Linked DNA regions of Homo sapiens: all the other regions are linked to region 2. The links come from fine-mapping of genetic effects on gene expression. A gene starts in region 2. Each other region holds a variant in brackets. All regions are shown on one strand. Distances are between the middles of the regions. Region 1 holds the start of LCNL1 (lipocalin like 1). Region 2 holds the start of ABCA2 (ATP binding cassette subfamily A member 2). Region 3 holds the start of LOC124902313.

Evidence for each region. PIP is the estimated chance that this variant, and not a neighbour inherited with it, causes the effect.
Region 1: its variant is the best candidate, but not a certain one, in a credible set for the expression of ABCA2 in whole blood (TOPMed, PIP 0.76).
Region 3: its variant is the best candidate, but not a certain one, in a credible set for the expression of ABCA2 in whole blood (TOPMed, PIP 0.59).

What each region holds. Positions count from the first base shown.
Region 1 is chr9:136,981,106-136,990,713 of GRCh38, reverse strand. PTGDS (prostaglandin D2 synthase) reads right to left here. Exons shown (of 7, transcript NM_000954.6): 7 at 8,972-9,135. It overlaps LCNL1 (lipocalin like 1), which reads right to left and starts at 7,721. Exons shown (of 3, transcript NM_207510.4): 1 at 7,006-7,721; 2 at 6,151-6,224; 3 at 4,956-6,001. The coding sequence starts at 7,127. The coding sequence ends at 5,703. RefSeq lists a silencer at 183-477 and enhancers at 5,270-5,825, 5,826-6,383. The variant C/T (reference allele first, on the strand shown) is at 6,487.
Region 2 is chr9:137,021,454-137,030,612 of GRCh38, reverse strand. ABCA2 (ATP binding cassette subfamily A member 2) reads left to right here and starts at 2,376. Exons shown (of 49, transcript NM_001606.5): 1 at 2,376-2,538; 2 at 6,377-6,470; 3 at 6,773-6,775; 4 at 7,561-7,672; 5 at 7,748-7,911; 6 at 8,135-8,262; 7 at 8,612-8,722; 8 at 9,003-9,159. The coding sequence starts at 2,473. FUT7 (fucosyltransferase 7) reads left to right here. Exons shown (of 2, transcript NM_004479.4): 2 at 1-439. It overlaps LINC02908 (long intergenic non-protein coding RNA 2908), which reads right to left and starts at 3,149. Exons shown (of 3, transcript NR_171031.1): 1 at 2,702-3,149. RefSeq lists enhancers at 1,491-2,235, 7,441-8,020 and a silencer at 2,119-2,298.
Region 3 is chr9:137,097,551-137,107,158 of GRCh38, reverse strand. MAN1B1 (mannosidase alpha class 1B member 1) reads right to left here. Exons shown (of 13, transcript NM_016219.5): 5 at 9,222-9,331; 6 at 7,278-7,463; 7 at 6,006-6,154; 8 at 5,487-5,675; 9 at 844-1,034; 10 at 350-470. It overlaps LOC124902313, which reads right to left and starts at 5,480. Exons shown (of 3, transcript XM_047424371.1): 1 at 5,247-5,480; 2 at 3,525-4,139; 3 at 2,183-3,487. The coding sequence starts at 3,927. The coding sequence ends at 2,949. The variant A/G (reference allele first, on the strand shown) is at 6,383.

The DNA of each region.
Region 1 (9,608 bases), 40 kb after region 2:
CCAGCTGAGCCTTCCCATGAGACCACATCATCGGCCGGCAGCTTGACCACAGCCTCCTGAAACTTTGTGTCAAAGGCCCAGAGTCCTGCCTGGCTGACACTGGGAGATAATGCATGCCTGCTGGTTAAGCAGCTGCATTTGGGGTAACCTGTCACTCTGCAGTAAGTGACCACCAATACACTTATTTACCCTGCTTATTGTCCATCACCCCAGGAGGTCCATGAGGGCAGGGATTTCTGTCTGTTTTACCTGCCAGTGTATCCGTCTCTTCAGCGCTTACACAATGGCTGGCACATACAGACACTGAATAAACATTGTGAATGAATGAATGGGGGGTGGTGGCTGTTGGAGGTTTAAGCAGGGGTGGATGGGAAGTGGCACGTCTGACTTATGTGTGTGAAGTCCGTATTCTGTGCTGTGAGGAGAGAGGACGGGGGCTGCAGAGGAGAGGGGTGGACCATGGGCTCGGACTGGAGGTGGAGGGAGGAGGAGACAAAGAACAATCAAGGATGGCCCTGGCATTTGGGAAGAGTGGAAAGGGGAGATTCATCCCCAAGATGACTGGGGTGGGGCAGATTTGGAGAGGACTGGGGGGCCTCTTCTTTGTCATGTGAACTCTGAGATGCTGGCTGTAGCAGGCCCCAGATATCAGGCCCTAATCCCTGGGACCTGTGAATGCTATTGTCTATGGAAGATGCTGGGCACTGCATTCCAGCCTGGGCAACAGAGTGAGATCCTGTCTCCCCTTCCCCCCAAAAAAAGGAAAGAAAAGAAAGGAGTGTTTGCAGATATTCCCTTGAGATGGGGTGATTATCCTGGATTGCCCAGGGAGGCCCTCAGTGCCATCTCAAGGGCCTTTTAAAAGTGAGGCAGAGGAAGCTTTGAGACAGAAAAGAAGGCAGCATGGCATGGAGGGAGGAACTGGAGCGATGCAGCCCACAAGCCAAGGATTACAGGCTGCTATCAGAAGCCAGTGTTGTGACCAAGCGAGTTATACAGAAACGCCACACTTTGAGACAAATTAAAGAGTCCGTTATTAGCCGCGACTGAGAGGCAGCTAACGCTCAAAATTCTCTCGGCCCCGAGGAAGGGGCTAGTTTTGTTTTTATACCGTGGTCTAAATAGGGGAGGGGGGATTTTAGCTGAAGCAATTTTTACGGAAGCAGAACTGGCAAAAAGTTAAAAAAATTAATTGGTTACAAATGCAGTTACAAAAAATAAACAGTTCCAGGTGCAGAGGCTTAAACTATCACAAAGAGATAAATGCAGGGGTTTTGGGTGCCATCCACCACGCGTGTCCCCAGGAGCTGCTGGTGCAGCTTGCCTCAATGTCTTATCAGTAGGTGCATTCCTGGACGTGCTTTGAGTCAGTTTACACTAGCTATGCCTTCAGGGAGGAAGGTGAAAGGGGGCCGCAGGTGAAGAAACTAAAATGGAGTGTGTCCGGCTCTCTCTCTGCCAGGAGAGGGTCACTCAGGTGGAAACAAGGTAGGGTATCCCACCAGAAGAGGCCAGGCCCAGTGGCTCATGCCTGCAATCCCAGTGCTTTGGGAGTTCAGAGTGGGAGGACTGCTTGAGGCCAGGAGTTCAAGGCCAGCCTGAGCAAGACAGCAAGACCCATCTCTAAAAAGAAAACATTAGCCAGGCATAGCGATGCATGCCTGTAGTCCCAGCTACTTAGGAGGCTGAGGCAGGAGGACTGCTTGAGCCCAGGAGTTCAAGGCTTCAGTGATCTGATCGCGCCATAGTACTCTGGCCTGGACATCAGAGCAAGACTCTGTCTCAACAACAACAAAAAAAGAAGACAAAGAAGCTAGAAGAGGCAAGGAAGGTTTCTCCCCTAGAGCCCTCGGAGGGAGCACAGCCCGGCTGATACCTCGACCCTATTAAACTGATTTTGAACTCTGGCTTCAAGCTACAAGTTTGTGATAATTTGTGGCAGCTGTAGGAACTGACACAAGACCAGAAACAAAGATTAGTTCCAAAACATGACGAGAAAACTGCAAAACCTTCATTTAACTAGCCTCAGGCTGGGTCCGTGTGGACCTCAGGTGTTTATTTTACACTTTGGCTCACACCCTGGTGTCATGTTCTGTTTCGTGGCTCACATCGGGCCAGCTTCATCTACTGGCAGCAGCTTTTCCACTGGCTTCCACCACGTCCTTCTCTGAGATACTTTTTTATACTTTTTTTTTTTTTTTTTTTTTGAGACGGAGTTTCGCTCTGTCGCCCAGGCTGGAGTGCAGTGGTGCGATCTCGGCTCACCGCAACCTCTGCCTTCCAGGTTCAAGCGATTCTCCTGCCTCAGCCTCCCGAGTAGCTGGGACTACAGATGCCCACCACCACACCTGGCTAATTTTTGTATTTTTTAGTAGAGACAGGGTTTCTCCATGTTGGTCAGGCTGGTCTCGAACTCCCGACCTCCTACCTCAGGTGATCCGCCTGCCTCGGCCTCTCAAAGCTCTGAGATTACAGGCATGAGCCACTGCACCCAGCCATGGGAGCAATTTTCTTTAATGTAGGATACATTAATACAGTGTATGAGATATAAGGTTAGTGGAGCTTTGCAAGCAGAAGGAGAGGGATTACAAAGTCCCCACGCACACACTTGAAGTCGGTGATGGAGGCAGAACAGGGGAGGGAAAGGGCTGACCTTTCCCAAGGCATAGAGCACCTGGAAGCTGGGCCAAAAAGAGGAGCAAAAGGTCCGGAGAACGAGCTCTAGGGGAGTGGGGGCCAGTCAAGTTTTGGGGTAGCAGAGGTCAACAACCAAGGGAGGTATTTGAGCAAGACTTCAGAGACGGGAGTGAGTGCACTGAGTGGCACTGGGAGAAGGGCAGTCCAGGCAGGGGTGACCTGGGCAAAGGCCCTGAGACACGTGAGGGGCTGGCAGCAGGACGGAGGGAGGGGAGTGGATGGTGGGTCAAAGGAAAGCCTAAAAGAGAAGACCTTGTTGGCCACCATCAAGACTTAGGCCTGAGGCCGGGCATGGCGGTTCACGGCTGTAATCCCAGCACTTTGGGAGGCCGAGGTGGGTGGATCACCTGAGGTCAGAAGTTCAAGACCAACCTGGTCAACATGGTGAAACCCCGTCTCTACTAAATATACAAAAATTAGCTGGGCGTGGTGGCGGGCACCTATAATCCCAGCTACTCAGGAGGCTGAGGCAGGAGAATCGCTTGAACCCGGGAGGCAGAGGTTGCAGTGAGCCAAGATCGCGCCACTGCACTCCAGCCTGAGCAACAAGAGCGAAACTTCGTTCCAAAAAAAAAGACTTAGGCCTTTACTCTCAGTGCAATGGGACCCACTGTGGGGTGCTGAGCAGGGGGGCCTGATCTGACACATCTTGTGAATCCATCCCCTGGGCTTCTAGGTGGAGAAAGGGCTGAGCGTGGGAGGTGAGGGACTCGATGCGTCTGCAAGGGATTGGGGGCTGACCACAGCTGGACCCACAGCCACCCCCAGAGGCTGCCCCACCCTGGAAGGAAGGAAAGGGCATCCCTGAGGCTGTGGAGGGCAACCTGCATTTCCCGGCTCGGAATCTTCCTGGGAATGCAGGGGGGATGCAGAGCCACTGTGCTCCGCCGAGTGGTGTTTTTTTGTTTTGTTTTGTTTTTTTTCTGAGGCAGAGTCTCGCTCTGTGGCCCAGGCTGGAGTGCAGTGGCACAATCTTGGCTCACTGCAAGCTCCGTCTCCCAGGTTCACGCCATTCTCCTGCCTCAGCCTCCCGAGTAGCTGGGACTACAGGCGCCCGCCACCACACCCGGCTGATTTTTTGTATTTTTAGTAGAGACGGGGTTTCACCGTGTCAGCCAGGATGGTCTCGATATCCTGACCTCATGATCCGCCCGCCTCAGCTTCCCAAAGTGCTGGGCCCGGCCCGAGTGGTGTTTTTTAATAACAAATTTTCTGGGCTGGGCCCAGTGGCTCACGCCCGTAATCCCAGCACTTTGGGAGGCCAAGGTGGGTGGATCGCTTGAGGTCAGGAGTTTGAGACCAGCCTGGCCAACATGGCAAAACCTGTCTCTACTAAAAATACAAAAATTAGCAGGGCGTGGTGGCGATCACCTGTAATCCCAGCTACTTGGGAGGCTGAGGCAGAAGAATCACTTGAACCTGGCAGGTGGAGCTTGCAGTGAGCCGAGATCGCACCACTGCACTCCAGCTTGGGCGACAGAGCGAGACTCCATCTCAAAAAAACAAACAAACAAAACTCTGACCAACTGAGAAGGAGAAATCAGAGCATACTGCACCCCGTAGACCCATCACCCAGATTAAACACTATCCAAATATTCACAGATTTGCAACCAGTATTTTTATTATTATTTTGCTGAACTAGGTACATTACAGCTAGTAGGCTATTTTCCTTCAAATTCTTCGAGACTTGTCTGTAAAAGACAACACTGTCCTACATAGACTCCAGGCAGGGCAGAGTTTTATGCGGCTCCTCCTGTCCTCCTCGCCCTCCACTCTCCGTGGACAGGCCCTGGGTCAGAGTTGGGAGCGCTTCGTTGGTCTCCGGAACAGCCAGGCCTCTGGGGCGGGTCCTGGAGCCAGGAGTCAGGGGCTGGGGAGCTGGGGGACCCGGAGGGGCGCCTGGGGATGGAAGCCGCCGACACTGACTGGGGCAGCCGCTTGGGAGGACCCGGAAGGCCACGTCGCGCGGCGGTGTCCGCTGAAGCCTGGGGCGCGCGCCGCGTGGTGTCCGTGTCCCGCCCTCCCGGCGCCCCCAGTCTGGGGGTCTGGGTCCGTGCGGAGGTAGAAAAGTCCCAGAGCTGGGGCTGGGGCCCGTCCTGAGGAACCTCCCTGCCACGGAGCCGAGGCTCGGTCCCTCCTGGGCTAACGCCTACCCAGAGGGGCAACAGGGGGTGACCCGGCCCCTCCCCCAGGGCGCCCATGTACCTGGCCGCCCCCCCGCCACCCCTCCCTGCCCCCAAGAAACGCACAGCGCCACAGGCATTCAGGGTGTTTATTGCGCTTGGGGCCAGGGTGTGGAGGGAGGGGGCTCTTTGGGCAGGGCTGGGCGCACGGAGCAGCTGACCCCTGCGGGCACTCAGGGGCTGGACCCCTCACTGCAAAACAAGGAGCAGGTGGGCGGCGTCCCCTGCCTCCGCCCCCTCCCGACGCGCAGCCCCGCGGTTCCCCAGGCTGCTGCGGCTCGGATCCGCCCGGGTGCCCCATCACCCCCGCTGTCGTCCCTAGCTGCCCCGAAGGTAGAGGGCCCCGCGGTGCAGCCCACCGAGCTGGGAGGGCCCATGGTCCGCGGCTCCGCATGGCCATGGTCTACTCACCCGGGAGAGCGCGCCCGCACACTGGTCTGCAGAGAGATCGAGCCTGAGGCGCCACCCCGCGCCCCCTTCCCTGGGACGGAGGCCCCCGACCTGCCCCAAGGCGATCTCCTCCTGGGAACACCGGCCTGGGCAACGTCTCGCCCTCCCCCGACCCAGACAGGCTGGGTCTGCCCCGGGCACTTCTGTCCCGAATCTGAGATCAGTGGAGTGACCAGGGCCTGGCCCTTCCAGCAGGGGTGTGACCCGGGGCCTGGCCCTCCCAGCAGGGCTGCCGGCACCGCTCACCCGACTTCGGCAGCAGGACGCCCTGGCTGGGGCTCAGGCCCACTTGGGGCGCCAGTAGCTGCATCTTCTGGGCGCCTTCGGGAAACAGCTCGGGCGCTCGAGCTGAAGGTGGGGAGGGCGGGTAAGCTAAAGGGAAGGGGCTGGAGGGGCGAAGAGAGGGAGAGAGGGGCAGGGAGGGGCCGGGACCCGCGGCCACAGACACCAGGAGCCAGCGGTTCCACCTTCCGCGTGCAGAAAGGGCTGGTGCAGGCACAGGGGTGACATCCCAGACCCGAAGCGGGGGTGTCTGGGTCTCCGCCCCGCAGCCCGCCCACCGTAGAGCTGCAGCCACTGGTTCCGCAGGCCCCCTTTCCGCATCTCCAAGTACAGCAAGGCAAAGTGCTGGTAGTCGGAGAAGGCCACTCGGATGTCACTCAGGGCCATGGCTGGAGGAGCGAGAGCCGCTGACCCCAGGCCCAGGGCACCTCCCCCCCGAGCGTGGCACCCCTCACGCCCCGGCCCCAGGTGCCAATCCAGCAGTCCATGCAGCCTCCAGGGCCCCCACGCCACAGCCCTGCCTGCTGCCCCACCTCACCTGGGTTGCTGAACTGCCCCGGTACAGCACCCTCGGTGAAGGTCGTGTCCATTTTCTGGCACCCGCCATGGGGCCTGGGGAGAAAGAGCCCCAATCCCCTGAGTGGCCACCCCTGCCCAGCGCCCAGGCCTAGAGCCTACCTTGCTGTCTCTGAGCCCAGGGTCCCCTGTTCACCCTCACAATCCTTAGAGGACATGGGACTTTAGGATGACCTTAGAGGTGGGGACACTCCTGCTGGGGGTGGGGTGGGTATTAAGTACCTGTTCACAGGCACACAGCCTAGAATGCAGGGCCTCCAGGTCCCCCTTCCAGACACAGACACACAGAAGACACACA[C/T]ATACACACATGCACACACACGGAGATAGACACAGACACAGACACACTGACAGACACACACATAGACACGCACACAAGACACACACAGAGATAGACACACACAGCCAGACACAGATACACAGACACACAGACACACAGACGCATACAGTGATACACACATACACACTCAGAGGTACACATCTACAAAGACACACATGCATACACACGCACACACAGACACACACACATGCAGAAATAGACACACATACACAGAGACACAGCCACATACAGTGATACACACACAGACACAGACATGCAGACACTTTTCTCAACACCAGGCCTCAGGCAGTGCTTCCTCCAGGGCCTGGGTCCCTCTGGACTCCGTGTGGCTGCCATCTGGGGCTCTGCCGCACAGAGCCGTCGAGGACCCGTGGTCTGACCTCAATGTGCTGGGGACACCATGGTCCCTCTGGACCTTCATGTGGCCTCATGCTGGCCATCCTCTGAGGCTGAGTCTGATGGGCTCGTGTGGTCACTTACGTGGGGTATCCAAACTTGAGGGCCAGGTCACCATTCCCCAAGGGGGTCACTAAGACCACAGCCATCTTCATGGTGTCCTTGGAGTCCAGGAAGTCCTGGTCATCTGACACCACCCCGACCATGTACCAGGTGCCCTGGAACTGCAGGGCAAGTGCAGGGAAGGCTGGGAGGCCGCCCCTGTGCCCTGGGCCTGAGCCCACCACATTCTGCCCCGACACAGCTGCTTCCTGGCCACGGCAGGGGCTGCTGTACACATCTCGACCCCGATGCAGAACTGAGGGAGGGGGGCCTCAGTACATGAGCAACTGGCCCCCACCAGCCCAGCACCGGCCTGTCTGCAGCTGGCACCCAGGGGGTACGGCTGGATGGGTGGGGCTGTGGCAAGGTCACAGGTCTTTGTGGGGTGGGTGGGGGACAGTGAGGCACAGGCAACCAACTTGTCCCTATTTTGGGCCCTGGGGATTGTTGGGGGATGCAACTGAAAAGGTAGGATGGAGGCTGCAGTCTTCCCCAGCCAACCCCTACTCCAGTCAGACGGAGCGGGTGAGGTGGGGGTTTCCCCTGCCCCTAGCCCTGCTGAGCCTGGATCAAAGAGGGTGTGGACAGGGACCCGGGGTGCAGCACCAAAGCCGGGAGGACTCATTGGAGATGAGGAGGAAACAGGGCTGGGCACACCTGGCTGGCATCAAAGTTGGCCTGGATGGGGACCTGGGCCTGGCCTGGGGATGCCCAGAGCAGGGCAAGGAGGGAACTGATCAGCAGAGCCCGAAGCATCATGCAGCAAGATGGCATCTCCTCCGGACACGGGAGCAGGGCAGAGCTGAGGTGGCTCCTCTGTAGGCTTTACGCCCCTGAGGTGCCCTGGGGCGGCTGGCCTGGGACTGCACCCACTGTGACAGGCTTCTGATCAAGTTGCACCCTGCAGCGCTCTGGCCTGGCTCCCTCCACCCAACCCCAGCCATCCGTTGCCTTTCCTCCGGGGTGGGGCCGGATGCCTGGCAGCTGAGGGTAGTTCTGACGGGCCTCTGGGCTAGGGGGCCTGCAGCTCACCCATCCTGCCTCTTCGGCCTTCTGCAGCCCCTCTGGGATGTTGGAATCCCCCCTACCTTGAGCTCAGGCACAGCCCTAAGCCCCCTTCTCCGGGAAGGCCACCCAGAAGCTCACCCTCACCTCCGAGCCTCAAAATGCTTGGTGCCTCTGCAGGGTCTGCCTCGGGGGGGCCTGGTGGGCAGGTCACAGTGAGTCCTGCACATTGTGTACCTGAGAATGGCTGCCTGGGTGGGAATCTGGAAGGGAGCAGGGTTGGGCAGGGCACTGGCCGGGCATGGTGTGGCCGTGGTGCCAGGGCTCTGGTGAGTGGACAAGGCTGTGATCTGGAGGCCCAGGTCAGAGGGCAGGGGGCGCACAGGGAGCCAGAAGGGATATGGGGTAGCCTGTCCCCAGCCCACTCTGTCAGTCTGTCCTGATGCGGGGTGGAGACACTCTGGCATGTTTCAAACAAATGTTTCTTTTTGTCCCCTGAAACCCTTATCTCTGCCCAATCTCAGTGCGTTAATCCCACACCTCAAGATACCCAACAGGTCCAAAGCTCCTCTGGGGCCTCGAGCCTCAGGCCTTTACTGCTGAGGGGGTGACAGGGTGGCGTTGGGGGTGCAGGGCACCTGCCTAAGGGATTAGCTGAGTCACTGACCCCCAGCTCAGCACCGGCCTGGTGGCAGTGGCAGCTGAGGGGGTATGGCTCGACGTGTGGGGCTGTGGGGCAGGGGCACACGACTGTGTGGGGTGGGTGGGAGACAGTGAGGGACACCCCCTCCTAGCTGTCCTGACTCAAGACCCCACTGGGAGCAAACACTAGAGGGCCTGTTCCTTTGTTGACGTCAGGCTGAGATTTTAGAGGGGGAGGTCCGGGTGGCCAGGGCCAGGCCCAGGACGGGTGATGACAGCGCAGACAGCCAGGAGCCAGCTCTACTGACTTGCTTCCGGAGTTTATTGTGCAGGATGAAGCCTGAGTGGGCAGGGTTGCTTTGGCGGGGAGCCGGGGCAGGGGCTCGGGGAAGGAACAGAGCAGAGACATCCAGAGCGTGGGGGTCACCTGGCTGGCCGGGATCCCAGCTTCAGCCCTGGGGAGTCCTGAGGGGTGTGACCGAAAGGCTAGGATGGAGGACTGCAGTCTACCCCAGCCCACCTCCACTCCAGTCGATGGAGCAGGTGCGGGCTACGGGGACTTTTCTCTGCCCCCAGCCCCACTGAGCCCCGCTGAGAGAGCAAGATCCATCCCTGGGGCTTGGATCCCCGCTGCCCCAGGGTCTACAGACTCCACCCTTCCCAGCCCCAGGGTCCACAGACTCCAGCTCCAGCCTAGGCCTCCCTCCTGGGGGTGGTGGGTGAATCCGCCCTGAGCCTGCTCTCCGAGCTGTCCCACGGCATCCATGTAGCGTCCTTGGCCCTCCCCTTCCATCCCCTGTTCCCTCCCATCCTGTCTCCCCCACCCTGGTTTCCTCCTAGCCCAGGAGCCAGACACCCTTGCTGCCAGGTGGTCCCTGTGGTATAGCCCCTTGGCCTTGTCTGCCTGGGGCCTCGCACCTGCACCCCCCAACCATGAG
Region 2 (9,159 bases):
GGGAGGCTGGGCACAGAGGTCAGGAAGCAGGGGTGGGGGGTGCAGGTGGGCACTGGAGCATGCAGAGGAGGTGAGAGTGGGAGGGAGGTAACGGGTGCCTGCTGCGGCAGACGGGAGGGGAAAGGCTGCCGAGGACCCTCCCCACCCTGAACAAATCTTGGGTGGGTGAAGGCCTGGCTGGAAGAGGGTGAAAGGCAGGGCCCTTGGGGCTGGGGGGCACCCCAGCCTGAAGTTTGTGGGGGCCAAACCTGGGACCCCGAGCTTCCTCGGTAGCAGAGGCCCTGTGGTCCCCGAGACACAGGCACGGGTCCCTGCCACGTCCATAGTTCTGAGGTCCCTGTGTGTAGGCTGGGGCGGGGCCCAGGAGACCACGGGGAGCAAACCAGCTTGTTCTGGGCTCAGGGAGGGAGGGCGGTGGACAATAAACATCTGAGCAGTGCCTCGTGGGTCTGGCCAGTGTCTCATGGGTCACCTCCGTGCAGGGCCACAGAGCCTGCATCTGCCCTCCCCTGACATGTCGCCCCCACGGCCATGGGGCTGCTTGTTCCCCACGGGGGGTCCTGTCGCCTGACTTCTGGGCCTTTGCTCACCCTCCGCCTGAGAGCCCTCCCTGTGCCGGGCTGCCCACTGGCTACCCCAGTTCCTACAGCCTCCGCCAGACGGCCCCTTATCAGAGAGCCTTCTGTGTCCCCCAAAAGGCCAAGGCGATGAGCCCAGGAGTTCGAGACCAGCCTGGGCAGTGTAGTGAAATCTCATCTCTACCAAAAATACAAGAATTAGCAGGGCGTGGTGGCTCACGCTTGTGGTCTCAGCTACTTGGGATACTGAGGTGAGAGGATGGCTTGAGCCCAGGAGGTTGAAGCTTCAGTGAGCCGTGATCACACCACAGCACTCCAGCCTGGGCAACAGAATGAGACCCTGTCTCAAAACAAAAACCAAAACAGGCCAAGGTTGGGGAAGAGTAGGGAACGGACGTCAGAGGCCTGGCCAGGCTGAAATCGCCCATCTCCCAGGCCCGCAGGCTGGAGGGTGTCTGGGGTGACAGGGTCTGACCTGTGCCTTGTAGCTCCCTCTGGTGGCCAGTGCTGGGGAGGCACTGGGGATGCGGCTGCAGCCAGGGAGCCCCTGTAGTGGACGGTGGAGAGTGGGGCGAGGAGGAGAGAGGCCAACCCACGGGTGGTGCTGACCAGGGCCCCAACAGGCTAAGCCCCCGGGGCTGGGGCACAGGGCTTGTCCCTACCCCAGGTAGGGGTGGGCAGGTTGAGGGCAGGAAGCCCCCCTCACCCATGGCTGTGGCTTGTGGGAAAGACCTGCTGGTAGCTTCCTGCCCTGACCCAGCCCTGTGGACTGAGCAGAGAAAAGCAAGTGCCTTGAGGCTGCGGGCTGGGGTGGGAAGCTGATCCCTCACTCACTAGCCCAGGGTCACCTTCCTGCTGCAAAGGAGCTGGGAGGAGTGGGGAGCTGTGGCCTCGGAGGTCTTCATTCACTTGAGGATGCGCCTTCTATGTGCGCCCTGACACTGGACACCACACAGCGCTACTCCACCCCATTCACAGGGGGGAAACTGAGTCTGGGAAGCGCCGTCAGAGCCACCCATGGGGTCAGCCTGTCCTCTGTCGCTCTCTACAGGCCACGCGGAGGAACTGCCCCACCTCCCGGGGCGCCCCAGCAGGTGCCAAGCCACAGCCGCAGAACCGCCTGATCCCGAACTCCCTGTGCAGAGACCAGACTCGCCCGAATATGGGGAGAAAAACGAGCCGCGTGCAGCAGGGGCCGCCTCGGTCCCCTGCCTGCTCCGCTCACGGCGAGCGTTCCTGGGGCCTCGAGTTTCCCCCCTTCCGCTGGCTGCTCGGAATCGCGGGACGGACCCACCTGGCCGCCCTGCCTCCCTTCCAGGTGGGCACCACCTGGACTCCAAGTGCTGGTTTACAAAGCACACAGGAGACCCTTACGGGGGTGAGCTGGCCCCTCGCCAGCGTCCGCTCGGCGCGCCCCGGGGACAGTGAAGGCTTGGGGCGCCTCTGCAGAGTCGCCAGCGCGGTGGGCGCAGCCGGATGCCTCTGGGAGAAGAGCGCAGCGCCCGAGGGTCCCCCGGCCTACGAAGGCTAAGCCGGGGTCTCGGATTCGATGTGGGCGCGTCGCGTGACGCCCGGCGAGGGGCGGCCCGGAGGCTTCCCGGCGGCGGCGCGCGCAGGGTCTCGGGCCCGGGTCGGTCCCGGGCGCGGCGCGGGCGGCGGGCGCCTCCTGGCGGGCGCGGACGGAGCGCGGCGCCTTTAAGCGGGGGCGGGCGGGGCGCGGGCAGAGTCGCTGTCGCCGCGGCCGCCGGGGCGGAGCCAGCGCGGATCGGGTCCCGGACGCCCGAGCGCCCCGCCCCCGCGCGGGCGATGCCCAGCGGCGCGGCGGGCTGCGGGGCCCGGCGGGGCGCGCAGAGGAGCGGGCCGCGGCGCTGAGGCGGCGGAGCGTGGCCCCGCCATGGGCTTCCTGCACCAGCTGCAGCTGCTGCTCTGGAAGAACGTGACGCTCAAACGCCGGAGCCCGGTGAGCCCACCCCACGCGCCCGCCCTCAGCCCGAGGCCGCGCGCACCGCGGCCAGAGGCGCGCTCCCCGCGCGCACGTGCGGACGGCCGGGCGCGCGCAGACCCCGGCGGGCGCTGGGGGCGGCGCGGGCCCGAGCCCCCTCCCCGCCGGGCCCTGCCCTCGCCTGCCGGCGCTGCGGCCTCCGGGGAGGTGGCTCGGTCGTGTCCAGTCCGGTCCCGCGTCCGCTGACATCGCGGTGCTCGGCTGAGTCACGGCACCCGCGCCCTCTGCAGCGCGCTCGCTGGGGCCGCTGTGGGCGGGGGGCAAGCGGCGCTCAGGACTCTGGCTCGAGGGAGGCCCTGGTTCCCAGGACAGAAGGCAGGCCTGGGGGGCTCCATTCAGCTGCGAGGCTCCATGGTCCTTGGGCCCAGCCTCCCTGGGGTCCCGGAGGAGACCCTGTCCCTTCCCTCCGTCCACCCCTCCCCTGCCCTTGGGCCGCGGCCTGCCATAGAGGTTGGTCCCAGGCATCTCTCCGCCTCCCCTCCTGGCACATCCGTGACCCTTGCTCATGCTCTCGCCACTGGGAATGTCCTTGTGCCAGCCTTGGCCAGCCTGAATCTCTGCACCCATTTGTCCTTTGGGGTCAGTTCTCCCCGAGCCTGATCCACTCTGTTGCCTCCTGGTCCCCCCACCTGCTCTGGGGGCTGGGTCTACTGTTTGGAGCTGTGAACCCCGGCTTTCCCAGCACTGCCTGGGCAGCCAGTGGACCTGAGGGTGCAGGACACATGGCTGTCAGGGACAGAAGTCCTTCGTGGAGCGAGGGGCTTGGGGATATGGGTGTCCTGCCATACCCCCAGCTGGCCAGCTTGGCTCCAGCCTGGGAAGGGAAGGGACACCTCCCAGGCCACAGGCCTGGACCAGCTTAGGTTTCTGAAGGCCCTTGGGATTGTCCAGGCCAGGGCTCAGAGCAGGTGGGGGCCTAAGGCAGACATCCTCTTGCCCAGCCAGGGCCCGGGCGGGACCCCTTGGGCTGCACCAGTCCGTGCCTGTTTATCTTTCAACATGCACTGCAGGAAACCCAGGCTGCAGTCAGCTGGGGTGGCCATCATCACCATGGCTGGCAGAATTCCCCTGGGCACCTGGCCTTGGCGGGGAGCCTGGGTTAGGTACATGCCCTGGCCAGGCACCTGGAGCTGGCTGAGTGGGGTCCCATGGATCAGGCCTGCAGCCCCTGGCATTGAGTCACTGGGGACAGCAGAGCAGGGCCAAGGGAACAGGGATGTGGCATGTGGCATGCATTAGTATTAGTCCCCGGGGGTGGTTGTCAGGAAGGTCCCCACTGGGCTTGGGAGCAGAGGCTGGAATGGTGGCCCCTGTTCCAGTGGGGACAATGCTCAGGGAAGGGAGTGTGGCCTATGAGGGCAGCTGGCAAGCAGGTGGGAGGTGTGCACTGTCCTGACCGCAAGAGTGACTCCCAGCTGCTGGTTTGGGCTGCCCCCCAGGACCTTTTTGGGTCCCCACCCTACAGGGCTCCCAGAGGCCCACTGGGCCACAGTGGAGGTCCTTAGCCCATGGCTGGAGCAGGTGGGGAACTGTTTCCCCCAGGGAGGCTGAGTCCTTGCCAGGCTTGTGATGTGGGGCTGGGGCTGGCTGGACACTGGGCACACTCCTGCTGGGTCCCCACTTTCCTGGGAAGGATCTTGGACATCAGAGCTGGACTCTTGGGGCCAAGCTTGGATGACAGAGGTTTGCCCTGTGTGCCATGCGCCCTGCTGGGGCAGGGGTGCACCCTGGGCAGAGCTCCACCCTGGGCAGAGCTCAGGGTCTGGAGGGTGGGTGCCAAGGACCTCTGTGCTGCTAGCAGGCTCCTCCAAGCTCTTTGCCTCAGTTTCCCTGTCTGTGAGTGTGGCCTATCTCCTCTTAGTTAGCTGGACTTGGGTCTACCCTTGGGCTACAGGCTGCTCTTGGTGCAGGGACAGGGTCACTGTCATGAAGTCACTGGGATGGCAGATGGCAGCGCCACCCTCGGGTCTCACCTGTTCTCCCCCCGACACAGTAGGCGGGAGCTACAGGGAGGGGTCATGCCCAGAGAAGGCATCTAGGCCTCCAGGCGATGTGAAGGCACTGGGCTGGTCTCGAGGGACGGAGGTTGGGCCACCTGGAGGCACCTGTGTGGGGCACCCAGGGCGTGCTAGACCTGTGCTGCCGCCTGTAACCAGATGCTGCTGTGGCGCCCGCCGCCTGCCAGCCAGGACTCTCCTCCTCCTCCCAGTAGCTCGTGCGAGGCCGTTGCTATAGCAATGGGGGAGGCAGCCGGGCCTGTTGCTGCAGTTACAGTGCCCATAGCAGGCCGGGTGTGGGCGGGGCTGGCGCCCCGTGCTGTGACCCCTGCCTCTGACATTGCCTCACTCCTGCAGCCACCCTCGCCCTGGTGCCTGTTGGTGCCCACAGTGCCTTGGCGAACCCTGGGCTCCGTCCTGGCTCAGGGAGCGGGTGGAGGCTGGCACGGGCTGGGGCGGGCATGGGACACCCACAGCATGATGTTCCTGGCCACAAAGCCCTATTGTCCAAGCACAGTAAACACAGCAGCCGCCCCCACCCCAGGGACCGGGGACTCGGCCCGGGCCACACAGCACACTGGGGGCTCTGAAGGGTTTTGGGATGGGGATGAGGACAAAGGATGCCTCCGAGCTGGGTGCTCGCCCTCGGGCTAGGGAGGGCAGGGCCCCTCTGTCCTGTGGGTCTCAGAGAGGGCTGGTCTGCCGAGGGCTCTCTGGAGGGTAGCTGGCTCAAGCTCCTCCTCCTCCCTGAGCTGGGGGCTGGGACACAAGAACCGGTAAAGTCCTTGGTTTTCAGGTGAAGTGAGCAAAGCACCTCTTTCTCACTCCACGCAGGTCCCACTAGGGCTCACCTTGGTGCCCAGCCTGGGTTAGCAGGAGCCGACCTGGGGAAACTGAGCTCCAAGGCCCAAGACTGGCTGCCCCGGGTCAGGAGAGGGGACAGGGCAGAAAGAGGTGCCTTTGGGCCAGGTGTGGTGGCTCACGCCCAGGTGGGCGGATCACGAGGTCAGGAGATCGACACCATCCTGGCTAACACGGTGAAACCCCGTCTCTACTAAAAATACAAAAAATTAGCTGGGCATGGTGGCGGGCGCCTGTAGTCCCAGCTACTCGAGAGGCTGAGGCAAGAGAATGGTGTGAACTTGGGGGACGGAGCTTGCAGTGAGCTGAGATCGCACCACTGTGCTCCAGCCTGGGTGACAGAGTGAGACTCCGTCTCAAAAAAAAAAAAAAAAAAAGGTGCCTTTGCTTCAGGGACTGGGGCTGTTAGACCCCTTACCAGGTCTTCTCCGAGGCTCAGGGCCCTGGGCGCAGGCCAAGCCTCTCAACCAGGCCTCCTCATCTCCCCAGGCCCCGGTATTGGTGGGGAGGAAGTGGGAGGAAGGTGAACCCGGGGCAGTGTGGGAAGTGTAGGCGGGGCTAGTGGCTCAGATGGTCCCCAAGATTTTGCCCAGGTAGCCCTGGAGGTGGGGAGGGAGAAGATGAGCTGGGATATACATGGGTCAGAGTAGACCACAAGCTGGCCGATTTGTCCCTGTAGGCCCTGAGGCTCCTCAGAGGGCACGTAGGCCCAGTGTGGGCTGGGGACGGGAAACCTGATTTGCTGAGCCAGACAATCCTTACCCTCAGTGCCCTGGAAGGGGCTCAGACCTTCAGTGGTTCCGAAGGGCCTGTGCCCACCTTCCCTGGCCCCAGGGAGCACGTGGTCCTGTCTGGGCTGGGCCAGCCCTATGGGAGGCTGGGGAGGGCCTAGGCGAGCACAGGTCTGTCCTATCCCTCACTGGGCCCACCCTTTCCAGTGGGTCCTGGCCTTCGAGATCTTCATCCCCCTGGTGCTGTTCTTTATCCTGCTGGGGCTGCGACAGAAGAAGCCCACCATCTCCGTGAAGGAAGGTGAGTGCGGCAGGAGGCCCCAGGCACAGCCGGGGGAGCGCGGCACCTCGCACGCCTGCGCTGTGTGTGCACATCTGCACACGGGTGTCCTGCTCCCGGAGTCCCTGAGGTGCGGTGCCTGCTCCCCTGTGTGGTCCTGGGCCGTGCCTCCTGGCTGGGCTGTGGAGGTCGGGGCTGGCCTGTGGCCGCGAATGATGATGCCAACGCCTCTTCCTGGTGATGTGGGCACTCACTGGTCTCCTCTGTTCTGTTTTGATCCCCCTCCCTCCCCGCATGGTCTCTTGTCCTCGGCTGGCATGCAGTCTGTAAGTGAGCGGCCACCTCCTCCTGGCTGGCCTGGGCAGCAGCTGCGGGGGGCCCATGGGCCGTCCTGGCTTGAGCGCCCTCCCCGCTTGCATTAACAGCCCTCCCGGGCCCCCTGCCGGCCTCAGGAACAGCTGGCTCCAGATGGGGGGTGGCAGGCAGTGAAGTGGGAGGTGGTAGGGAGTGAAAGGCCCGGCCACCTAAAGGCACAGCTGGTGCCTGGGTCAAGCTGAGGCGGCATCTCTCTGCCTGGCCTTGCCTTCTAGGGCTGGGGTGCCTCGGCTTCTGGGCTGAGTCTGGGCTGAGGCTGGGCTGGCCTGGGCTGGGGCTGGAGCGGCCTGGCTACTCTCCCTTCATACTCCTTCAGGCTCTTGCACTCACTCTGCTAACCAGCTGGCCAGAGGTCAGAGGTCACTGCCCAGAGGGGGTCCTTTGTCCTCCCCTGGGCTCTGTAGGCAGTGCCACACCTGAAACGTTTTCGGGGGGAGAGTGCCAGGGCATGTGGGCCTGCACTGGCTGAAAGGAAAGGAATGCTCTGGGAGTTATGGCAGAAGGGGTGGTGAGTGGCTCTTTGACCTCTGACCTGCTGGAGTCATTCGCCCCAGAACGCTTGGCCTGTAGCCCAGCTGGGGCCAGGGCTCTGTGCCGCCTTCTCCCTAACGCTGCTTCTCCTTCCTGACTTTCTCTAAATTTCTCCTCTCGGCCTCTGTCTCCCTCCCCTTCTGGATTCCTCTCTCTCTCTCTCCCCTTTCACCCCCGACCCTGCCCTCTCCCGTGGGTCTGCCAGCCTTCTACACAGCGGCGCCCCTGACGTCTGCCGGCATCCTGCCTGTCATGCAATCGCTGTGCCCGGACGGCCAGCGAGACGAGTTCGGCTTCCTGCAGTACGCCAACTCCACGTGAGTGCCCACCCGCCCCTCGGAGCACCCACCCCTCCCCAGCCCATCCAGTGAGTGACATCCGCCATGGTGCAGGGTCACGCAGCTGCTTGAGCGCCTGGACCGCGTGGTGGAGGAAGGCAACCTGTTTGACCCAGCGCGGCCCAGCCTGGGCTCAGAGCTCGAGGCCCTACGCCAGCATCTGGAGGCCCTCAGTGCGGGCCCGGGCACCTCGGGGAGCCACCTGGACAGATCCACAGGTGTGCCCTGTGCAGGGAAGTTGGGGGGCAGGGCTGCGGGCAAAGCTCTGCTGTCACTGGGCTGAAGCCCACATCCACTCTGGGCCCCTCCACCTGCACTGAGTTCCCAGCCACGCACAGGCTGCAGTGGCAGAGCTGTGGTGTTGGGCTCGGCTCCGAGCGCATGTGGGGGCACCTTGCCAAGGTGCAGCGGCCTCTCAGCCTCGCCTTCCTGCCTGTCCAGTGTCTTCCTTCTCTCTGGACTCGGTGGCCAGAAACCCGCAGGAGCTCTGGCGTTTCCTGACGCAAAACTTGTCGCTGCCCAATAGCACGGCCCAAGCACTCTTGGCCGCCCGTGTGGACCCGCCCGAGGTAAGGCAGGGACAGCTCCCAGCCCTGGCCACTCCCTTCTGCCCCAGCCACGCCCCCTGGTTGCTGAGCCATCCTCAGGATGCTCAGCCTGAGTCACGCCCAGACCGTCTGAACCTTGCCCCCACCATCTGAGCCACGCCCCCACTCTCTGAGCCATGCCCCCACCATCTGAGCCACGCCCCCACACCTACATCGGAGCCACGCCCCCACCATCTGAGCCACGCCCCCACTCTCTGAGCCACGCCCCCACCATCTAAGCCACGCCCCCACACGTCCATCGGAGCCACGCCCCCACCATCTGAGCCACGCCCCCCACACCCCATCTGAGCCATTCCCCCACACCTCCTAGGTCTACCACCTGCTCTTTGGTCCCTCATCTGCCCTGGATTCACAGTCTGGCCTCCACAAGGGTCAGGAGCCCTGGAGCCGCCTAGGGGGCAATCCCCTGTTCCGGATGGAGGTGAGGGCATCCATGTGTGGGATGGGCCTGGAGTGCTGCCTGCCTCTGGGGGTGCTTCTGCTCCGTGGGTGAGGAAAGGGCCCCTTTGGTGACTTGGAGCTCCTCCTGGGAGAGGGGGAGGGTCCCAGGGGTCTATGGCAGGCATGAGGGGTAGAGGCATGTCGTGGGACCCAGGCAGCCCCAGAGCCAGCCAGTGGGTGGGGCAGGGTGAGGCCTGAGGCCCTAGTGGTTGGGGACAAAGTCCTTGCCGTGGCTCCACGGACCCCTGTGCCCATCCCAGGAGCTGCTGCTGGCTCCTGCCCTCCTGGAGCAGCTCACCTGCACGCCGGGCTCGGGGGAGCTGGGCCGGATCCTCACTGTGCCTGAGAGTCAGAAGGGAGCCCTGCAGGGCTACCGGGATGCTGTCTGCAGTGGGCAGGCTGCTGCGCGTGCCAGGC
Region 3 (9,608 bases), 76 kb before region 2:
CTCGGCCCTGGTACCCTGGGAGGGGAGGCCACGCGAGGGCACTTGGCATGGAACAGCGGAGCTGCCTGGACCAGGCCCTCCAACCCGGCCCCCACACACCGCCCGAGGACCTGCTACACACCGGGCACGGGGAGGGAGCTGCCCTGGGGAAGCCCTGCCCACCCCAGGTGCCACACAAGGCCTTACTGCCCTGTTGCCAAGACAGGCCTGGCCAGGCAGCCACGGTCCACCCAGGGCCTCCACGTGGGCGCCATGGCCAGGATTTCGTTCTTTTTGACATCATGACTCAGGCACCTTGGAAGCCAAGGTAAAAGGGGCGGCGGCCGGAAGGCCCCGCAGACACACTCACCATCTTGGCACTGAAGCGGCCGTGGGCAAGCTCCCCCACAAAGGTGAGCTTACTGGGCTCGGAGTGCCGCAGCAGGTGCGTTCTGACACCCTCGATGGCTTCCACGTAGTCTTCCAGCAGCCTGTGGACACCAGCAGTCATCTCACTCTACCAGGACGGTGCATCGGCTCCCGTGGGGCACCAGGGACAGGCACATCCTGGGCCCACACAAGTACAGCAGGCCTGGCCCTTGCCGGACAGAAGGTGCCACCCTGCACAGCCCATGGCCCTCAGTGAAGATGCCCCCCTCACCCCCCCAGAGGCCACGGTGAGAGGTGAATGAATACGCCCTCCACATAAATGCCTGGGCCAGGCCTGGCACGGCTGCGGTTTCCTGACACACAGTGTGGCGGGGGGCAGCAGGAGCGGGGGCCGTGGGAGCTGGGGGCAGCAGGAGTGGGGGGCTGCGGGAACGGGGGAGCCGCGGGAGCTGGGGGCAGCGGGCCGGGCCTCACTGTGTCTCCTGCTTCCCGCCCTGGATCCACTGCTTCAGCAGGTACTCATAGTAGCTGTCGGCCCTGGCGCCCAGCGTGAATACGCCCAGGTGGGTGAAGAGGCCACTGTGGGTATTGATGAACATGGGCACCAGCCCATCCTTCTTCCCAGACAGGCCGTGGATGTGCTGTGTCACCTTCTCCACTGCCTCCTGCGGCAGAAAGGGGGATGGTGGGTTTACTGGCCAGGGCCGAGCTGCAGGGTGAGCTGTAGAGGGGCTCTGTGAGCTCTGCCTCCCCTCGCCCCAGCACCGACTGACTCCCAGCAGAGAGAGCTCTGTGCCCAGCCCACAGCTGTCCTTGCCCACATGGCTCCTGGTGGCCGTACCACACAGCCACACAGCCACCAGTGCAACGCACCTGAATGTCACTGCTCCCAACGGGTGGTCACCACAGAGCTGACCCATCTTCAGGATGGCTCTCATCCCTTACTCGAAGGGACAGCATCTGACAACCACAGGCACTGTCCTCACGAGAGCCCACCAGGCCTGGCCGTCAGCCATGGCTCTGGAGGGACGGCAAGTGTGCCTGCCTTCTGAGCCCAGTGTTGCTCCTGATGATATTAAACGCCTCGGCTCCACGCCCTCCTGGTGAGCTCCTACTCATCCTCCAAGTCACAGCCACCCTCAGCTCCTCAGGGCTTACGCCCAGCTGGCAGCACCAGGCGTCCTGGCCCACAGAGGGGCACAGGGTACCGGGATGTTAGGGCACGCCCAGCAAGGGCGCTCCGGGTCTCTACCCAACGCAGACACCCAAACCCATGCCCAGCACCTTCGAGGCCTGGCTGCCTATCCCTGTGTACCGGCAGCAACCAGAGGCCCTGGTGACATGGGGGTGCCCATGGGGGCCTGGGGCCATTTTCTGAGCTGCAGTGAAAACGCCTTCTAAATGTCTGCATGGGAGCCTCACGTGGATGGCGTGTGGGAGCCTCACGTGGATGGTGTGGGCTGCACTTCTCACCACAAGTGGTCACAGTTGCTCTAAAGAGGGCTGTGTCCAGCTCATGATTAAAAACAGGGACTCGAACATGAGGCCAAATACATGAGCAACAATAAACTGACCAGCTGTGCTTCATGAAAATGACAATCTGTTATCTATCAAAATACACCATTAACAAAGTAAAAAGAGGCCGGGCACAGTGGCTCACACCTGTAATCCCAGCACTTTGGGAGGCCAGTGGGTGGATCACCTGAGGTCAGTTCCAGACCATCCTGGCCAACATGGCAAAACCCCATCTCTACTAAAAATACAAAAAAATAACGGGGTGTGGTGGTGGGTGTGGTCCCAGCTACTCGGGAGGCTGAGGCAGGAGAATCGCTTGAACCCGGGAGGTGGAGGTTGCAGTGAGCCGAGATCGCGCCACAGCCTCAGGCAGGTGTGTGCACCCACACTCACAACACCCAAAACACAGCCTCAGGCAGGTGTGTGCACCCACACTCACAACACCCAAAACACAGCCTCAGGCAGGTGTGTGCACCCGCACTCACAACAAAGCAGAGCCTCAGGCAGGTGTGTGCACCCACACTCACAACGGCCAAAACACAGCCTCAGGCAGGCGTGTGCACCCGCGCTTACAGCAACCAAAACAGCACAGTCCTGGTGTCCACCAGAGGAGAGAGGATTAAACAAAAAGTGGCCTAGCCACGCAGCAGATATTCAGCCTGAAAAAGGAATCTCTGAAGCATCTTTCGCGTATGAAGCTTAAAGACGCTGAGTGAAAGGAGCCCAAATAAAAGGATAAATCAGCCGGGTGTGGTAGCTCACGCCTGTCATCCCAGCACTGTGGGAGGCCCAGGCGGGTGGATCACGAGGTCAGGAGTTTGAGACCAGTCTGGCCAACTTGGTGAAACCCTGTCTCTAATAAAAACACAAAAATTAGCTGGGCGTGGTGGCAGGCGCCTGTAATCCCAGCTACTTGGGAGGCTGAGGCAGGAGAATCACTTGAACCTGGGAGTGGAGGTTGCAGTGAGCTGAGATCACGCCACTGCACTCCAGCCTGAGTGACAGAATGAGACTCTGTCTCAACAAACGAAAACAAAAAAAGGACAAATCGTGTGTGACTGCACTCACACGAGGAACTCCACACAATGAGGTCCAGGAAGAAAAACCTGAACAGTGTTTTTCAGGGACTGGGGAGGGACATGAAGGGTCACTGTGTGATGGGAGAGCTTCAGTTTTAAGATGAAAAGGGCTCTGGAGATGGAAGTGATAGCTGCACAACAGCATGAATGTGTGTAACACCACTGACCTGTACTCCTGCAACAGCGTGAATGTAACACCACCGACCTGCATGCCTGCAACAGCATGAATGTGCAACACCACCGACCTGCACGCCTGCAACAGCATGAATGTGTAACACTACCGACCTGCATGCCTGCAACAGCATGAATGTGTGTAACACCACTGACCTGCACGCCTGCAAGTGTGAATGTGTGTAACACCACCGACCTGCAAGCCTGCAACAGTGTGAATGTGTGTAACACCAACCTGCACACCTGCAACAGTGTGAATGTAACACCACCGACCTGCACGCCTGCAACAGCATGTGTGTAACACCACGGACCTGCACGCCTGCAACAGTGTGAATGTGTGTAACACCACCGACCTGCACGCCTGCAAGTGTGAATGTGTGTAACACCGACCTGCACGCCTGCAACAGCATGAATGTGTGTAACACCACCGACCCGCACGCCTGCAAGTGTGAATGTGTGTAACACCAACCTGCACGCCTGCAACAGCGTGAATGTAACACCACCGGCCTGCACGCCTGCAATAGCGTGAATGTGTGTACCACTGACCTGCACGCCTGCAACAGCGTTGTGTGTAACACCACCGACCTGCATGCCTGCACCAGCGTGAATGTAACACCACCGACCTGCACGCCTGCAACAGCATGAATGTAACACCACTGACCTGCACGTCTGCAACAGCGTGAAAATGTGTAACACCACCGACCTGCACGCCTGCAACAGCATGAATGTACCACCGACCTGCACGCCTGCAACAGCATGTGTGTAACACCGACCTGCACGCCTGCAACACCATGAATGTGTGTAACACCACCGACCTGCACGCCTGCAACAGTGTGAATGTGTGTACCACCGACCTGCACGCCTGCAACAGTGTGAATGTAACACCACCGACCTGCACGCCTGCAACAGCATGTGTGTAACACCACCGACCTGCACGCCTGCAAGTGTGAATGTGTGTAACACCAACCTGCACGCCTGCAACAGTGTGAATGTAACACCACCGACCTGCACGCCTGCAACAGTATGAATGTAAGACCACCGACCTGCACGCCTGCAAAAGCGTGAATGTGTGTAACACCACCGACCTGCATGCCTGCAACAGCGTGAATGTGTGTAACACCACTGACCTGCACGCCTGCAACAGCATGAATGTAACACCACCGACCTGCACGCCTGCAACAGTGTGAATGTGTGTAACACCACCGACCTGCACGCCTGCAACAGCATGAATGTGTGTAACACCACCGACCTGCACGCCTGCAAGTGTGAATGTAACACCACCGACCTGCACGCCTGCAACAGCATGAATGTGTGTAACAGCACCGACCTGCATGTCTGCAACAGTGTGAATGTGTGTAACACCACCGACCTGCACGCCAGCAACAGCGTGAATGTAACACCACCGACCTGCACGCTTGCAACAGCGTGAATGTAACAGCACCGACCTGCACATCTGCAACAGCGTGAATGTGTGTAACACCACCGACCTGCACGCCTGCAACAGCGTGAATGTGTGTAACACTGACCTGCACGCCTGCAACAGAATGAATGTGTGTAACACCACCGACCTGCACGCCTGCAACAGTGTGAATGTAACACCACCAACCTGCACGCCTGCAACAGCGTGTGTAACAGCACTGACCTGCACGTCTGCAACAGCGTGAATGTAACACCACCGACCTGCACGCCTGCAACAGCGTGAATGTGTAACACCACCGACCTGCACGCCTGCAACAGTGAATGTGTGTAACACCACCGACCTATACTCCTGCAACAGCATGAATGTGTGTACCACCACCGACCTGCACACCTGCAACAGCACGTGTAACACCACCGACCTGTACTCCTGCAACAGCAGGAATGTGTGTAACAGCACCGACCTGCACGCCTGCAACAGCGTGAATGTAACACCACCGACCTGCACGCCTGCAACAGCATGTAACACCACCGACCTGTACTCCTGCAACAGCATGTGTGTAACAGCACCAACCTGCACGCCTGCAACAGCATGAATGTGTGTAACACCACCGACCTGTACTCCTGCAACAGCATGTGTGTAACACCACTGACCTGTACGCCTGCAACAGCCCAAATGTGTGTAACACCACCGACCTGCACGCCTGCAACAGTGTGAATGTGTGTAACACCACCGACCTGCACGCCTGCAACAGCGTGAATGTAACACCACCGACCACGCCTGGAAATGGTTAAGGTGGTGCGTTTTGTGTGTTTTATCACAGTAAAAAACCTGAAAACACACATGCACATACACACACACACACAGTACCTGCTGTGATGAGCAAAAGGTAGCTCCAGGGGAGGCGCATCCAGCCAGAAAGCCTGCCCCCTTACCTGAAACTTCTTATCCCCTGTGAGACGGGAGAGCTCCCGGAACTCCAGCTGAATGCTGGTCACCTCGGCCACAGTGCTGTCGGAGGTCCACCGTGGCGGGTGGGCAACTCCAGTACCGATGTTCACATCCGAGTAAGGAATCTTGGATGGTGTTCTGAAGGCAGGCATTAGCCGATTTCCAAAATCCTCCTGGTATATGAGCAGAGTAGAGAACCAACGTTCAGGTCACCCAGAGGCCTCGTCTACACCCTTTCATGCAGTTCAGTGGAGACACTGAAGGCTCTCTGGGGTCAACACAGCAGCAAGGAAACGGGCATCACTCTGCACTGAGTGAATGTCTCTACAAGGCCAGTGGTGATCAAAGTGGCTTCATCAGCTCACGAATATGAGCTCAGAAACAGACTCCAGTGCATTTGAAGAGGAAACAGGAAGACAGTCACGTCCCCACAAGTCCACTAAAGGGGTAACTGCTTGAATGCGAGTCCACCATCTCCCTGCAGGACACCCCAAGACACTTACAGCTTTCCTCAGGAAGAGGCTGTCCCCAGACAGGTGGTAGGCACTCAGGAGCCCCCCCAGGATGCGGATCGTGCTCTCAAACAGGTTGACGTCCACGTCCTTTTCAAAGTGTAACTTCTTCGACACCCACTTCCTGGCTTCCTCAAATTCTATGACATAAAACAGTAAAGGATGCAGAGACAAATGGATGGCTCCAACGTTTTCCTATTATCTATCCATCTTCAAAATACATTTGGCTGGGCGTGGTGGCTCATGCCTGTAATCCCAGCACTTTGGGAGGCTGAGGCAAGTGGATTGCTTGAGCCCAGGAGTTAGAGACCAGCCTGGACAACATGGGAAAACCCCATCTCTACTAAAAACACAAAAATTAGCTGAGT[A/G]TGGTGGCGCATGCCTGTGGTCCCAACTACTGGGGAGGGTGAGGCATGAGAATAGCTTGAACCCGGGAGGCGAAGGCTGCAGTGAACTGAGATCGTGCCACTGCACTCCAGCCTGGGCCACACCACTAGACTCTGTCTCCAAAAAACCCACGTTTGAAACCAGGAGGCCAAGGTTGCAATGAGCCGAGATTGCGCCATTGCACTCCAGCCCAGGAGACAGTGAAAGACTCCATCTCAAAAACAAAAAAACAAAAACAAAAAACCAAACCCATGTCTGGGGCGTTATCGTTCCCCTGCAGGGCTTCAATATCACCTCCTATCTCAAGGGGGTAAATCTTGAAGTCGTCAACATTTGTTAATAAAACGGAGTCAGCAGTGCAGTTGCTATGGCCACCAATGGGTCACAACCAAAGGCTACGACCCAAAAAAATTACACACGTCGTTTACTGGTGGTCTTCAACCTATTCAAAAAATTAGGCAAATGTTTAAATTATCGCTTAAATAACCGAAGACACATACTCCCAATTCAAAGTGGATGTGCTGGTCTATGAAGGATGCTGCTGAGATCTGGGACCAGCGGGGCCCCACAGTCACTCATCCCACCACCCCCAGCTGCAAGAGAAGCACAGCCTGGGAATGTCCCTTGGACGTCCCCCAAAGAGTCCACACTCAACTCCTGCAGAGGTCTGGGGACAGCGGCCCTGTGTGTGCCTTGGGTGGCTGGACAAGAACAGGAACTGACCACAGCCAACACGTCCACTCCCGCACCCAGGAGAAGGGAAAACCCATGGTCAGATGCAAACAGCAGCTTTCACCCCGTGTGCAACCCACACTCTGCCTCAGCACACGAGGCCCACACGGAGGGCTCAGCCCCTCCCCAGAAAGCACCAGGTACCTTTCCTCAGACCCAAGATCCACATGGTGTCCAGCGCGTCGATCAGTGTGAGACCGAGGCCAAACCACTCACTGAAGGACCTGGACACAGGCTTCAGCTCGTCATGGCCCCATGCAAACTTGCGGTATCCTTTCCATGCATGCAGGAAGACGTCAATCACGCCCTTCTGGCGATAGTTCAGATGCACTAGTAGGGGGGAGAGAGCACAGGCCATGGCGGACGTGGTCCTGGCGTCGGCACAGATGGACACCCTCAGGCAGAGCACTGCTGTGACCCCCATGGGGCAAAGATGACGGTGGGTTTGGGACGACGGGAAGGGCGGTGGTGGGCACAGCAAAGGCCAGGGCCACAGAGGCTGCAGCAGCCCCCAGGGAGAACACAGCCTGCCAAGGGCCTGAGACCTCTGGAGACTGCACAGGATGGCACCTGTCACCCGACCACCTGACTGGGGCCCATGCACCTCCACCTGGCGCCTGGGCAGGCACACCCTCCTTGGGCCTCGGTGGCCTCTGGCCAAAGGGACAAGGGTGGCTGCCCCAAGGGCGCTGGGACAGCACAGTGAGCACAGCCTGTGGAGACGTGGGTGAGTGTGGTGCCAACTCAGAATGTGAAACACGGACGGGTGCAGACCTCGCGATGAACATCCTCGACTCAAACACGCTCCTTCTGCCACGTGGGCTTCAGGTGCTCCACGGGAATCGCACTGTGCACACGCGCTACAGTCCCTTCGTTCCCTTTTTTTAAATTTTTTTGGCTGGGCACGGTGGCTCCCGCCTGTAATCCCAGTACTCTGGGAGGCCGAGGTGGGCAGATCACCTGAGGTCAGAAGTTTGAGACCAGCCTCGCCAACATCGCGAAACCCCGTCTCTACTAAAAATACAAAAATTAGCCAGGTGTGGTGGCGGGTGCCTATAATCCCAGCTACTAGGGAGGCTGAGGCAGGAGACTTGCTTGAACCCAGAAGGCAGACGTTGCAGTGAAGTGACAAAGCAAGACTCTGTCTCAAATATACACATATATATAAATTTCTTTTTTTTTTGTAGAGATGGGGCCTCACTGTGTTGTCCAGGCTGGTCTTGAACTCCTGGACTCAAGAGATCCTTCTACCTCAGCCTCCCAAAGTGCTGGGATTACAAGTGTGAGCCACCACGCCCGGCCAACATTGACTAATGTGTGGATTGACACGTGTGTAACGGCACCAAACCACACGTCCTCTCAGGAAAGGTTCTGAGGCCTCCTTGTGCTCATGGCATGTCTATGCCTCTGCCTCTGCCTCTGCCCTCATTGATGCCGCAGAGATTGCTACACATCCCTCACAGGCCCGGGGCTGGGAGTCCTGGCTCTGGGCTCCCTCCCCACCTCAGAGACACCTGGGGGGCATGATGAGAGCAGGGCTCCAGACTCAGCGACCTGCCATGAGCCCCCACAGACAAGCAAACGACTCTGGGGGTGGCTGTCCTCAGCCCTGCTTTTCAGTCTGGAGAACGGGAGGGTGAGTGGCTTATCGTGTCAGAGGGTGTCATGAGGTTGAAAGAGGCCTCAGGTCATGCACTGAGCTTGGCCGAAGGCCCGCACCTGGGAGGCCCCCAACAAACGGTGCTGAGAATGAAGTGGCCCCCAGAGCTGCCTGGGACTGGCCAGGCCGAGACAGGGGACACAGCACGGGCAGCAGTCTCCAGGGATCCCGTGGGGCAGCCTGGCCCAGACACAAACCTCTCAGACACACCTTCTTCTGCAGCCATGTGCTCAGGGACAGCAGGCCAAGAGCCACATGGTGTCACCAAGGTTGCAGAGCCTGTGAGGACTCAGACAACAGGGGGATGCTGAAGGGCAAGGTGCACACCAGGGCGGGGGCGCCACCCACCATGGCTGAGACGAAGCCTGCACCCATCAGCCACCAGCCCCTGAGCGCCCGGGGAGGAAGGGGTGCAGGTGTGGCCTCACCTGGTGTGCCCTGTGTCCTGGCCGGTGGCAGGGGAGGCTTGGTGGGCACTTCTGCTCTTCTTGAAGGGAGCTCGGTGCCCTGCTCAGGCTCGATCACCGCTCCCCTCCAGCTTCGGGGGAGAAGGAAGGGTGTCAGCTGCCGTCAAACATTTGTGGCTCCATGTTTCCCACCCCCACGCTCCATACCCACGGCCAAGGCACAGCCCTGCACCCAAAGCGGCCCCATCATCCTGAGGTGCAGGCTGCTGAGTGGCAGGAAACACACAGTTCAGTCCTGAGCTCCCGTGCCTGAGAGCCAAGACCACAGCACTGCTCCAGGGTCAAGGCTGGCCTGAGGTCAGAGACCAGAGCTTGGAGAATCGTGAGAAATCCCTCTGCAGAGGCCGG